Linked DNA regions of Homo sapiens. The protein of the gene in region 1 interacts with the protein of each later gene in a pairwise test. Each region holds a gene or a part of one and is shown on either strand. Other genes may lie near its edges.

Evidence for each region. The genes of interacting proteins can lie anywhere in the genome.
Region 2: the proteins of SCAMP5 (region 1) and FATE1 interact in binary tests that used the Homo sapiens proteins (3 or more experiments, as listed by UniProt).
Region 3: the proteins of SCAMP5 (region 1) and PIGP interact in binary tests that used the Homo sapiens proteins (3 or more experiments, as listed by UniProt).
Region 4: the proteins of SCAMP5 (region 1) and TLCD4 interact in binary tests that used the Homo sapiens proteins (3 or more experiments, as listed by UniProt).

The regions. Positions count from the first base shown.
Region 1 is NC_000015.10:75,012,260-75,016,451, forward strand, and holds part of SCAMP5 (secretory carrier-associated membrane protein 5), read left to right. Parts: intron 1-417; coding exon 418-546; intron 547-4,192. UniProt on the Homo sapiens protein: Required for the calcium-dependent exocytosis of signal sequence-containing cytokines such as CCL5. Probably acts in cooperation with the SNARE machinery.
Region 2 is NC_000023.11:151,719,011-151,721,708, forward strand, and holds part of FATE1 (fetal and adult testis-expressed transcript protein), read left to right. Parts: intron 1-2,384; coding exon 2,385-2,491; intron 2,492-2,698. UniProt on the Homo sapiens protein: Involved in the regulation of endoplasmic reticulum (ER)-mitochondria coupling. Negatively regulates the ER-mitochondria distance and Ca(2+) transfer from ER to mitochondria possibly implicating it in the regulation of apoptosis.
Region 3 is NC_000021.9:37,064,530-37,067,496, reverse strand, and holds the end of PIGP (phosphatidylinositol N-acetylglucosaminyltransferase subunit P), read left to right. Parts: intron 1-116; coding exon 117-235; intron 236-1,784; coding exon 1,785-1,915; 3' UTR 1,916-2,123; downstream 2,124-2,967. UniProt on the Homo sapiens protein: Part of the glycosylphosphatidylinositol-N-acetylglucosaminyltransferase (GPI-GnT) complex that catalyzes the transfer of N-acetylglucosamine from UDP-N-acetylglucosamine to phosphatidylinositol and participates in the first step of GPI biosynthesis.
Region 4 is NC_000001.11:95,190,331-95,194,198, reverse strand, and holds part of TLCD4 (TLC domain-containing protein 4), read right to left. Parts: intron 2,650-3,868; coding exon 2,331-2,649; 3' UTR 1-2,330.

The sequences.
Region 1 (4,192 bases):
GCAAATAAACTGAGGTCTAGAGAGGGGCGATGATTTGCCCCAGAGCACAAATGCTGAGTGGAGGCTGGAACCCACGTCTGTAGATTCTCACACATCCGCTTCTTCTGCCTGGAGCTGCCCCCACTGAGAGGGTGGTACCTTGAGGCCCTGAGACAGTGTCACTCAGAATTAAAAAATAATAAATGCTGTCTGTCAAGGTGACATTGTTTTTTATTCTGAGTGACACTGTCTCAGGGCCTTTGGCTACTTTGGGATCATCACAGCTGACCCGGGGAGGTAGGGACGGCTGGGTGGGGAAAGCAGAGTGGCCGGTGGCCACAGGGGCCAATGGGGCAGCACAGCCAGGGGAAGGATGGGCGTCTTGGATTGTCGGGTGGAAGACTGGAGGTGATGTTGTGCAATGTGTCTCATCCACAGAGAAAGTGAACAACTTCCCACCATTGCCCAAATTCATCCCGCTGAAGCCATGTTTCTACCAAGACTTCGAGGCAGATATTCCTCCCCAGCATGTCAGCATGACCAAGCGCCTCTACTACCTCTGGATGTGTGAGTGCCATGGGATGGGGGTGGGCCAGGGTGGCTGGAGGAGGCAGGAAGACTGGGCGTGCTGGGCAGCGGGGTGGGGTGCCCACAGGCCTGACTGTCCTTCAGTCCCACTTGTGGCATATGCATGGACCATAAGTCTTCCCCTGCCAGGCTCCCAGAGGCTTCTTCCATGGGCCACCTCCCCGACTGGGCCTCAGTTTCCCTCAACCTCCCCCATCTAGGCCTCTCTTCCCTTCCTTCCCCTCCACCCTCCTTTCACAGAGCATCTGGACAGGGGTCCCTCTCTGCAGTGTAATCCCTGTCTTCTTGCTTCCCCTTTCCCTTCCACTGGAGTAACTTTCCAGGGAACCTCTGGGGACTGTCAGGACCTCAGGATTCTGGATTTGGAGAGGAATCCTTCCCTCAAAGCCTTATTTGTCTTGCTTTCTCTGGAAGATTGCTCAAAGAGAGGAGGATTCAGCTGGGAGTTGGGAGCTGTGGGATCAAGTTTGCCTGGTCACTGTGCTTGCCAAGCAGCAGGTTCCTCATTTGTAGGAAGAAAGTATTGGCTTGGCGATTGCTGTGGTTCCATGCAGCTCTGTGTTGGGTGGTCTATACCTGTAAGAGTCTAATGTCAGGCACAGTGGTTCACACCTGTGATCCCGGCACTTTGGGAGGCTGAGCCAGGAGGATCACTTGAGGTAAGGAGTTTAAGACCAGCCTAGGCAACACAGCAAGACCCCTGTCTCTACAGAAAATAAAAAAATTAGGCCTGTGTGGTGGCTCACACTTGTAGTCCCAGCTATTCAGGAGGCCAAGGCAGGAGGATCCAATGAGCCTAGGAGTTTGAGACCAGTATGGGCAACATAGCAATACCCCATCTCTTTAAAAAAACTAGCTGGGAATAGTGGCACATGCCTGTAGTCCTAGCTACTCAGGGGACTAAGGTGGGAGGATCACTTGAGCCCAGGAGTTCAAGGCTGCAGTGAGCTATGATCATGCTACTGCACTCCACCCTGGGTGACAGAGTAAGAGCCTGCCTCTAAAAAAATAATTAAATAATCTAGAATTCTTTATTTAGAAAACCTTAGCATCAATGTTCTAAGGTTTTAAGGCTGAGAGTGTAAAGGCCTCATTTCTGGTGATCTGTAGCAGGGGGTGGGAAAGGTGTCTTCTTGGGGGGATGGGACTTGGCTGTGCTGAGGCTAGTTAGAAGGTACCTCTTAGGCATGTGAGGGGGAGGCAAGCTGGCTATCCTGTGCTGGGTGTGAGCCCCAGGATCCCAAGATACCCGCAATGTAACTGCAGTTGGGTTCTGCTATATGTGACACTGCCCTGAGTGAGGCCTGCACTTAGCTGCCTACCTGGGCAGATGCTTGCATGTGCCGACAAGGTGGTAAAATATACTGTCTTTGCAGCAGGTCCCTCATGGCATGGTAGGAAGAGGATGGGGCAGACAGACTCAGTTTCAAGGCCTGGCTTGGCCTTTGAGTGAAGAAGGGATCTCCCACCATGTAACCTGAGAGAAGGGGGGATGGGACAGGTGTGGGTAAGTCTGTAGATGTTGGGAAGCAAATGAAGAAGTTACCTCTGATGGCTTCCATTTTTTCCATCAAATATGATGTAGTGTGGAGAGTGGGCTCACAACGAGGCCATGTTTGTCGACGGATAGTGAGGACACTCTCCAAAGAAACCCGGCCCCTAAGATTTCTGGGCCACACACAAGGTTCATTTGACATTGGCTGATGTGAATTTACAGTCTTCCTCATGGGGTCCCCTTTTTTCTTAGCAACATTCAGCTCAGGTACAGATGAGAATTATGTTCATCTAGGGTGAGTGTGGCCAGAAGGCAGGGCAGGGGAGGGAATAAGAAAATGAGTAATGAATTATGGAATCTAAGCTGGATAAGGAGAAGAGTGAAGACAGAAAGAAGCTGATGGCTAGAGAGAGAGAGGGGCTGAGCTCATGGGTATCCATTCCAGAGAGGAAGCAGAATAATTGCAGCAGAGGTGTTTGAGCAAGGGAGCTGGGGCAGGTTGGACTGGGGAGAGATGTGAACCAATATAATAGGTTAGTGTCTTTTCTATATAAAGAGCAAATAAAATCAGTTTTAACACCAAGCCTCCAGGAGATTTTGGGGCAATGAACAGGGATAGAGGAAATACAGCTGAAATGTACAGGAAGAAATGCCCACCCATGAGGGGCCCTGAGATGGGTGACACGGTGGTCAGGCCAGGCTTGTAGGTCACTGTGTCTGACCTGGGCTCTGGGAACTCAACTTCTGGGAACATCTCATCCAGAAGCTGGATTTAAGGGCTATAAATATCTCCTTAAGTCCTCACTAGGCACCCGCAGGTGCTTTACTCCCAAGGAAATGTATATAACCCTTGAGGTGCTTAAGGGTTCTATTCAGAAGACAGGACCACAGATGCCTGGCTGTTTGAGGCCACGGTTGAGCCCTCCTTCCTTTGTTTATTCAGCAGGTCTTTGTGGACTTAGCTTTGTTTTCAAGGAAGGGAGTGCCCTGATGTTAGATAATGATGTGCTGCACAGACCCGCATGTGTGTTAGTACCAGCATCACTTTTATCTGTAAATCTTTGAGGTCCCTGCTGGCCGTGACTCAGTGACACTGTGCCTCCTAGTTCAGCTAGATGAGGTGGGGACAGAGGGGGGGGGGCCTGGGTCCTGTTCTTGGGGAACTTTTAGTCTGGTTGATGGGCTGGGATTTATATCTGGGGAACCTTGAGAGCAGCCCAGGTCTGTAGAAGGTCAGAGGGATGGGAGATGATGAGGTTGCAGTAGCAAAGGAAGACTTCTTCAAGGAGCTGGCATGAGTGTTATCTAAGAAATAGATTAGATAGCTGGGCACTGTGACTCACACCTATAATCCGGCACTGTGGGAGGCCAAGGCGGGTGGATCACCTGAGGTCAGGAGTTCGAGACCAGCCTGGCCAACTTGGCGAAAAACCATCTCTGCTAAAAATACAAAAATTAGCTGGGCGTGATGGCAGGCACCTGTAATCCCAGCTACTCAGGAGGCTGAAGCAGGAGAATCGCTTGAACCTGAGAAGTGGAGGTTGCAGTGAGCTGAGATCGCGCCACTGCACTCCAGCCTGGGCGACAGAGTGAAATTCCATCTCAAAAAAAAAAAAAAAAAAAAAGAAATAGATTAGATAAAGACTGAGATTCCAGCCGCCAATGCCTGCCCCATTTAAGTGCAAGGTAGATGGCACAATGGCTAGAAGAGATGTTTCCACAAGGCCTTTTATTTTTCCCTTTCCATGCCCATATCTCGAAAGAGAAAGTGTAAGGTCGGTTTCCCATGTCTTGGGCTTGGTGATTGCTGTGAGTCTGGGAGGGTCAGGGGCTGAAGCCATTCTTGACAAGGACAAGAGCATTTCTACCACCCTGAGGCTTTGGGGCCCTTCAAAGGGGCTTGCTGGGCAGAAGCTCTGGGTTCTGGAGGCTGTGCTCTCCAGATTTCTCAGGAGTGGGTGCTGGGGTTGAGGGGTGGGGGTTGGTTCGAGCTCCCAGCTTGCGTTCTTACAGTCTTTACTCCTCTGCGTGTGTATGTGTGTCTCCTGTGTCTCTGTATGTATTTGTTGGTACGGGTTGTGGGTCTTTTGTGTGGGTGTGAATCTGTGAATGTGTCTGCATCTCTCTGTG
Region 2 (2,698 bases), on another chromosome or scaffold:
TCAAGTTGCTCCAGGAGGTCAGGCTCCTGCAAACCACTAATGTCCCTGAGACTAGGGGAGATATAATCTCTGGTTTAATTAAAGTTGACTACAAGGGCTAGAGGTAGACTGTTTGAAAATATAGACATTATATTGAATTTATAAATTAAATTTAGAAATTTAGAATTAGGAAATCTAATTTACTAATTCTATTTATTTATTAATTCATTCATTCCTTTATTTTTGAATAAAACAGTTAATGGAACTGCCTCTAGGAGAACCATAATATGCAAGGGTGAGAAAAGTTAATAATGCTATCCTGCTGACTTGGAAAAAAGCAGTGTGCCTTTAAAATTACATGGAAATTAAAATAACATTTTTTGAAATGATTAACAGAGAGAAGTTGGGACTTGGTGGGTTAACAACAAACTATGTTATCTGAAACAAACAAACAAATTCCAGCCATCAGCCATTCATCCTTATTTTTTGCCTTCAAATCTCTCAAAATTTTTTTTGTCCTTCTGATTCCAATTTATAGGAAAATCAAGCAATGGTCTGAAAATTTTTCTAAGAGACATCATTGATCAAATTATAGTCATGGGGTCTCCCTAATACCCATTATCTTTTTAATGCAATTTTTGAAGTATCTTAAGAAAATAAAATATTGTGACCATGAACTACGGTTCATAAAAAAGTTGCACCAATATCTGTGTGCTCCTCTTGAGAAAGATTAGTTATGCCTTATTGCAACAAACAGAGTGCAGTGGCAAAGTTCCTATGAAAATCCTTTACACAGAAATTGATCCACCTTCAGTTTGATGTTGTTACTTCGGAACAGAAGAGGGCTGCAGATATTTCTCAGGTGACAGGTGAGCCTTGGTTGTCTATTTTTTTGTAAGAATGAGGCAAATAGAAGAGCTAACCCAGTACTCTGTGCGCCTCAGTCAGGCCTCTCAAATGACAGGCTCTACTTCAGCAGGGTGAGCGGGTAAGGAACTGGCTGTCATGTGGGGCACCCTGAACCCTGCCAGAATGAAGACGGTTTTATTTTGTGTCACTTTCACCCCAGCTTTCTTATTCATTTGGTTCAGGTTTTGGCTTGGCGGTAAGTGCCTGGCTGCCAACCAGGAGTGAGAAGTGTGGATGACTGCTTCCTACATAGATCATTAGTTAAAGGCCCTGTTTTCCTCCCTCCCCTCCTTTCTTGTGATATGCCGCCATTGTCCTTGCAGGTCTAAGTCCTCTCTGGATGCTGCTGGCGGGGGCCTCCTTTGTCAGCTGAGTCCCATCTGCTTCCCATCCACAATGAGGCCTAGTTCCTCCATGGACACTTCCTAGATTCCAGAATTTTATTGAATTCTTTCATTAGCTGATGCCTCTTGTGTTGTCTTCTGTCTTATGGGTTTGTACTGTTTTACTGTCTTCACTGGCAATTAGTGGAGCCTTAACAGGAAGGAGTGTTAAATATGAGGGACATCGTAGTGTAATGGCTGAGAGTATAACCTCTGGACTGAAATGTCCTGGGTTCAAATTACTGCTCTGCTACTTCCTAGCTGTGTGACTTGGACAAGGTAATTAACCTCTCTGTGTTTCAGTTTCCCCTACTTTCAAAACGGGATGATAATGATACCGTTTCACAGGGCTGTGACGAGGAATCAGTCACTTAGTATTGGTAAGGGCTTAGAGGATGGCATGGTCCCTGGCATGTGGTGTGTGTTAAATAAGCAGCTTGTGAAACATTTCATCTTGAACTGGAAACCTAGAACTATGATTTGAGCCCAGGCAGGTCTGGCACCAAAAGCCACGCTCTTTTCCTCTATCCCCCACTGATGCTTCAAAGGCATCAGATGGCCCTGGCCCAAGGGCTCTGGGCCAGAGATGTACATGCTAGGGAGTTGTTGGCAGATGGATAAAAATGAAAGCCACAGGGATGGCTGGCTGAGCTTACCCAGAGGAGTTGCTGGTTTCCCAGTAGCCAGGGTTCTAGCCTTAGCCCTGACATTTACCACGCATCCTTGGAAAGTAAAGGCATCTCGCCAGGCCTCCATGGCCTGGGCTGCCAATCAAGGTTTTACGTTCTCCTTCAGTAGGTTGCTCAGCCTCTCAGCTAATACCTGCATGTGAAAGTTCTTGCAGAGGACAGGGACCCCTGTTACTGCTCCTCTTTTGCCACAGCCTGCCTGGATGACCAAGAGCTACCGAGGAGCATGGTGTGGGTGGGGTGGTGGCCAGCAGCCTGTGTGGGGTTCCCAAGCTTTCCTAGCGGCCTGAAGCTGCCAGCCCTTGATTCCAGAGACCAGGCACCATGTGATTCCCCATGGGGTGCACCATTGGCTCTGGGCAAACTGGAGAAGCCACTCATGTGGGGTTGGGCAGGCTACTTTACTGACCATTCCTTTCTTCAGGGGTCCCAGCTGCCAAAGCCCAGAATGCTGAGAGAATCAGGCCATGGGGATGCCCATCTCCAGGAGTACGCTGGCAATTTCCAAGGCATACGTTTCCATTATGATCGGTAAGAGCTGAGGGTCTGTGGGCCCTGGCTGCTCAGACAGGGCCCGGAGTGGGGCAGAGGGGCTGGTGAGCAGCCTGGCCAGGATGGAGTCATGAGGGCCTGGAATGCCTCCCTGTCAGAGACCATGAGTACCCTGGCTCCCTGCCCATTTGGGGCATCCCAGTGCTCTGCGGCCTAGCCGAGTTGGGCTGGACTGGGCTGGGCCAG
Region 3 (2,967 bases), on another chromosome or scaffold:
ACACATATTACTTTATAAAATTTAAATTTAAAAAACATGTTGGCTTTGTGACCGACTCTTGAGAATTACAACTTTTTTAAAGTGTCTATTATGTACTTTAATATTCTCTTTGGCAGATATTGGGCAGTTGCATTACCTGTCTACCTCCTTATTGCTATAGTAATTGGCTACGTGCTCTTGTTTGGGATTAACATGATGAGTACCTCTCCACTCGACTCCATCCATACAATCACAGGTAACTTTATATAAAAGGAAAGTGCTGGGGCAATGAAAGAGTGGAGTATTAGCACTTTTACCCAGAAAAGCAACAAAGAACAGGCTGCAAAACCCATGTTGGTGGTGCGCGTCTGTAATCCCAGCTACTTGGGAGGCTGAGGCAGGAGAATCACTTGAACCCAGGAGGCAGAGGTTGCAGTGAGCCAAGATCCCACCACTGTACTCCAGCTTGGGTGACAAGAGTGAAACTCCATCCTAAAAGAAAACACACACACACACACACACACACACACACACACACACACACACGGACAGTAAAAAGAAGCTACTAAGAGAAATAAATACAAACTTATATAAAAGGAAATATTTGCATGAAGGAATTAAGTTCTGATGAATACACACTAGCTATATTCATGGAGGAAATAAATTATAATTAATTATAGCACTGGTTAGCAGGTGTATGTTCCCATAAAAACCACAAGTATATGCTATATGTGTCTATAATATGTTCCCATTAACTTTGCCTGAGAGAAGCTTATCCTGAACAGACACCGTTGATCAAGGGATAGTAAATAGTACATGCAGACCTTGTTCAGAAAAAGGACTTTGGGGGTGTGTATCCTCCTCAGGATCATTGTGTACTCCTTATTCCAATTAAGTGGATAAAAGAGCCACAACACGTTCGTCTGGTTTTATTTTTTTAAAGTTCTTTCAAGTCTAAAGATGAAAATAAATCAGACTCCTGAGCTTGCTTAAATTCTAGAAAGTAAAGTATTTTTTAAGTTCCCTGGTATGATTTTTCAACTTTTCAAAACCTTTATATATTAGCCTCTACAATGTATTTTGAAAATCAATTCTATTATTTTTAAGTGTCTTTCTAATACACTGCATTCCATGCATTCTTGATTGGAATTGGCAGCAAATAGGTAATTTGTGCAAAGAGGGGAAATTGTTAAGATTGCATGAATATTTATACCAAATGATTTAATAGTTTTGCCATGTTGATTTAAATACATTTTCAAGGCCTGGATATAATTCTGTTCCCGTGAGAAATGTGCAAATGAGACTTTAATCATCATTGTATGGTTGATTAAAATATTGATTTCTTTCCAAGTTAGAGATGAAAAAAGTACTTTACTGATGTTTTTATTTTTTTATTTTTATTTATTTATTTATTTATTTTTTATTTTTTATTTTTGAGATGGAGTCTCGCTCTGTCACCCAGGCTGGAGTGCAATGGCGCAATCTCGGCTCACTGCAGGCTCCGCCCCCTGGGTTCACGCTGTTCTCCTGCCTCAGCCTCCCGAGTAGGTGGGACTACAGGCGCCCGCCACCTCACCAGGCTAATTTTGTGTGTTTGTGTTTTTAGTAGAGACAGGGATGTTTTTATTTTAATTGGGACATTTCTTCTAAAGAGAGGATTTAAGTAATCATCTAATTATGTTAAACATGATGTTTGTCACTATCCAAACGTCAGCCTAGTAAACTATGTGGTGGGTCTCCATCAGACACAGAGACTGTAGAAGAAATTGCTTAGGTAAACAGAGCTTTTTGGTCTTTTCTTACAGATAACTATGCAAAAAATCAACAGCAGAAGAAATACCAAGAGGAGGCCATTCCAGCCTTAAGAGATATTTCTATTAGTGAAGTAAACCAAATGTTCTTTCTTGCAGCCAAAGAACTTTACACCAAAAACTGAACTGTGTGTAACCATAGTAACACCAAGCACGTATTTATTTATAAGTTTTTGCCATTATAATTTTGACCATAAATTAATTTGACCATCTCTCTTATTAATAGAGAAGTAAAAAATGTAAGTTGACCTTCTCTTAGATTATGTTCAATGAATATTGTAAATGTTCAAGTATTGTTAATGAATAGAATAAATACAATATTGCATTCCCATATAGCAGACTTAAAAAAAAAAATCAATGTCAGTATAATCAAGAAGTTCCTCCAGAGAGGCATTTATATTGTAATTTGCAAAGGGCAATGATGTCCTTCCTCCTGTTTGTCCTGAGGGGCCCAGAATTCAAACCCTTAGTTTTTGGGAAGGGTACAGTTAGTACTTGTGCCATCAGATTCATGTCTAAGACACAAATATTTGTTGAGTACTCACTGTGTACCAGGTATTTTTCTAGGCACTGAGGATGAAGTAATGGTAAGATTCTCTCTCAAAGAGCTTATAGTTTTAGAAGCAGGGTGAGGCAACTAAGCAAATAAACAAGGAAATATAATTTGATGAGTGCTATGCAAAGAATTAAGATAATGTATTCTAGAATGCAAAGGGATGACTAGTTCACATTGGGTGGTCAAGGAAGGCCTCTCAGAGAGAGGCTGTTGGGATCTAAGTATAAAGCAGGTGAGGCAAAGACCATAAGGTGGGAAGGAACTTGGTTTGTCCTAAGAACAGAGAGAAGACTGGCATTGGGCATAGAGCATACCAAACAAGAGAGAATGTGGTCCCAGGTGAGCCTGGAGAGACCGGGCCCAGATTGTGAAGGGCTTTGTAGGCTGGTGTAGGAAGTGTGGATTTAAGTGTAAGTGTGATGAGTTTGAGGCACTTTAGGATCAAGCTGTTGGGAGTCTTGAAGGAAAGGAATGACATGGCCTGATTTCTGTTTTTAAAAGTCATCCTGATTGGTGAATGAAGAATAGATTCAGAGGAGGAGCTGGGAAGGGGACAATAACCATATCCTTACCCAGTAAGCATGAGATGGATAACATGAATCTGCTTTTCCTGTTCCCTAG
Region 4 (3,868 bases), on another chromosome or scaffold:
CACAAACTTTAGTTCAAAATTTTGATGTTTTAAATATACTTATTTAGTGAGTGGCTATACCAGTGAAGGGTAACATTAATGAAAGTAAGAATGAAGTTTTAAGCATGAAACAGTAACTATAAAAACAAACTGCTACATGGAGACTCACTAATATAGCTTTATATTGTTTTCATTTTGATAGTGGGTTTAAAATCTGTGTTCAGAACTATAGAAATATCCAGAGTCAAAAAATATTTATCTCAAGGTCTCTTTCTAAAAGAATGAATTTCCAAAATAGTTTTATTATATAAATTTTTTTAAAGCCACTTTTCCTGCAAAAAGGTAAGAACAAGATAAAACCGCTTGCTTTCCTACCCCCCTCTAGTTAACCAGTACATATTTAAGCACCTATGATGTGGACAGCACTAAATTTAGCAACAAATTATCAGTGTAATATTAGCTGCTTTAAAAATAACTATTATTTTACATTAATTCTTTCAAAAATAAATGTACCTAGTATAAGCCAATCAATCTCATTTTATCATTTAGTTACTGACTGAGATTTCAATCTTCTTTAAATGTTCTAAAACTTATCAGGCTCTATCTGCATTGAATAATAAAAGCAAATCAAATCAAAAGTCTTGATTATATTCAGCTAGCATGAACAATGAAAGTGAGTCAAACGTTCTCCTTCAAACTGAGAAACTGGATTACATCTTTTGGTATGAGTTCAATTAATTTCAAGTATTCATCACTGGTAGAATTAAATTTCTTCCTTTCTCAGGTAAGAATAATCATTAAACTCAAGTGCTTAAAGAATAAAGGCAATAATAGATAAATATATAATTCTATATTTGGATTGCAAGAATTAAAGTAAAAGCAAAACACATACACACACAACCAGAGTCGCCAGTCATTTATCTTCATATAATCAGACAATAATTTTGATGATAGAATACTTGGATTAAATTACCTTTTTTTTTCTGTGCTTTAAGATAGAAATTCAAAGCACTAAAATGCCAACTAAGTAAGCACGGGTATGAATTGTGAGTAAAATATGAATACTGATATTTTTGTAATAGTTTGGGTCTCATCAAGAAGAGGCCTATTTCAGGAGCATAATAAATACATATTGCATAAGACTTTGGTACTGATGGTGCTGGGTTCAGAACTCAGGGAAGATTTTGCAAACAGAAAATATTTTTCACAGAAAAAGTGCAAGGAAAGCAGATAGGGATAAACAGTGTTAAAACTTTCTTTCTTAATGATTCCTCCGATTAGCCTAAATAGTCCTCTATCAACATGCATTTTTAGAAGAAGAAACTCATCTCTTAAGGAGGTCTATAATCTGTCTTAAGCCTTATTATAAAATAAAAAAGCAATAATTTGATAAAATGCTAAAATAGAAATGACAGTGATATTTGAAAAAATCTTAAAATGTGGGAAGTATTCTCCATGACTAAACTAATTAAATATTCCCAAAGTGGTAAAATATTTCATCATTAATAGGTGATTGCATGTCTGAAATGAAAAATGTTGTTACTTCTGAATAGCCTGAGAAAAAGAACATGCCAACAATTTAGAAATTAAACCCTACACAAGTGTTGACAGCCATAGTAAGAAAAGAGTGCATACAACAAATGTTAAGAGCTATTTACAGATTTAAAAGCAGTTCCCATTCTTGCAGCAAAATTGGTGACATAAAACCATTTGTACCAGATTATCATAGTCATCTTTCACAGAGAAAAAATACCAATGCAGTTAAGAGATTTCTCAAAAGATTCACCATTATATTGATCATTTTTATTTAAACCTTTAAGATTTTTATCCATGCTTGTAAATAAGGCAAAAGAAAGGCAGAAAAGACATCTTGGGATGAAAACTAAATTTTAATTTTAGTTTCTCTCTTTTTTTTTTTTTTGAGACAGAGTCTTGCTCTGTCGCCCAGGCTGGAGTGCAGTGGCACAATATCAGCTCACTGCAACCTCCGTCTCTCGGGTTCAAGCGATTCTCCTGCCTCAGCCTCCCGAGTAGCTGGGATTACAGGCGCCAACCACCACGCCCAGCTACTTTTTTTTGTATTTTTAGTAGAGATGAGGTTTCACCATGTTGGCCAAGCTAGTCTCGAACTCCTGACCTCAGTGATCGACCCACCTTGGCCTCCCAAAGTGCTGGGATTACAGGCATGAGCCACCGTGCCCGGCCTTCTCTTTTCTAAGGTTTAAAAAAAATGACACTGAAATCCTGAATAACAATTATAATTAAGAAAGGTACACAAGAACATGCCAAGAATTCATCCTATCAGCAGATATGCTGGGTAGTAATGAAGTTTGCTTATCGGTAGCACTCTTTTAATCAAGTTTTCCATTCTGAAGACTATTTTTGGCTTTCTCTTGTCTGATGTGAGAGATGACTTTGATGCAACCTTTTGAAATTTTGATCATCCACATGACATTCATCACATCCAAAACAACACAACTAATGACCCAGGATAACTGGATTAAAACTCCAAGCCTTATGTAGGGTTCTGTTCCATACACGGAATACATGAAGCCATAATGAGGAAGCATTGAGGCAATCCGCACGATGAAGAATACTACTGTCATGAGTATTCCATTGATAACGATAGCTTTAGAAAACTTGGGATACTTCAGAGCTTCAAAGAACCACCTGAAAAATGAATTAAAGAAACATCACATTTATAGTGCATCTCTGAGGATTAACCATTTTTATTTTAGTTTTTAAATTTTAAAATTCAGTGAAGGAGGAGCAAAGGGCCTAGAATAGCATACGCAATGCTGAAAAAGAACAAAGTTGGAGGACTCACACTACCCATTTCCAAGACTTAACTATAAAGCGACAGTAATCAAGTCAGCATGGTGTTAGTGAAAGATCAATAAACCAATGGAAGAGAAAAGAGAGCTCAGAAATAGACCCACACAAATATACTCAACTGATTTGTGACAAAAGCATAAAGGTAATTCAGTGGAGAAAAAAAGTCTTTTCAACAAGGTGTGCAAAATTGTATATCAACATCGAGAAAAATGAAGTTAAGCAGAGATCTCACACCTTACACAAAAATTAACTCAAAATGGATCATAGACCTAAATGTAAAATGCAAAACTATAAAACTTCCATAAGAAAAAAGGAAAAAAACCTGTATGATCTTGCATCTGGTGGTGCTATTTTAGATACAACACCAAAAGTGTCATCCATGGAAGAAAAAGTTAGTTAAGTTGGACTTCGTTAAAATTAAAACTTGCTCTGCGAAAGACACTGTTAAAGAAAAGACAACCACACACTAGGAAAAAATATTTAAAATATACATGTATGGTAAAGTACATGTATACAAAGTACACAAAGAATTCTTAAAAGTCAACAATAAGAAAACAACCCAATTAAAACACTGGTAAAAGAGCATAACAAAAACCTCATCAGAAAATATATATAGATGAAAACTAAGCATATAAAAAGATGTTCACTATTGTCATTAGGAAGTGCAAATTGCAGTGGCTCACGCCTGTAATCCCAGCACTTTGGGAGGCTGAGGCAGGTGGATCACCTGAGGTCAGGGGTTTGAAACCAGCCTGGCCAGCCAGGCGCAGTGGCTCACCCCTGTAATCCCAGCACTTTGGGAGGCTGAGGAGCGTGGATCATCAGGTCAGGAGTTCAAGACCAGCCTGGCCAAGATAGTGAAACCCCGTCTCTACTAAAAATACAAAAATTAGCCAGGCATGGCGGCGGGCACCTGTAATCCCAGCTACTCAGAGGCTGAGGCAGAGAATTGCTTGAACCCAGGAGGCAGAGGTTGCAATGAGCCGAGATCACACCACCACACTCCAGCCTGGGCGACAGAGCAAGATTCCATCTCAAAAAAGAAAAGAAAAGA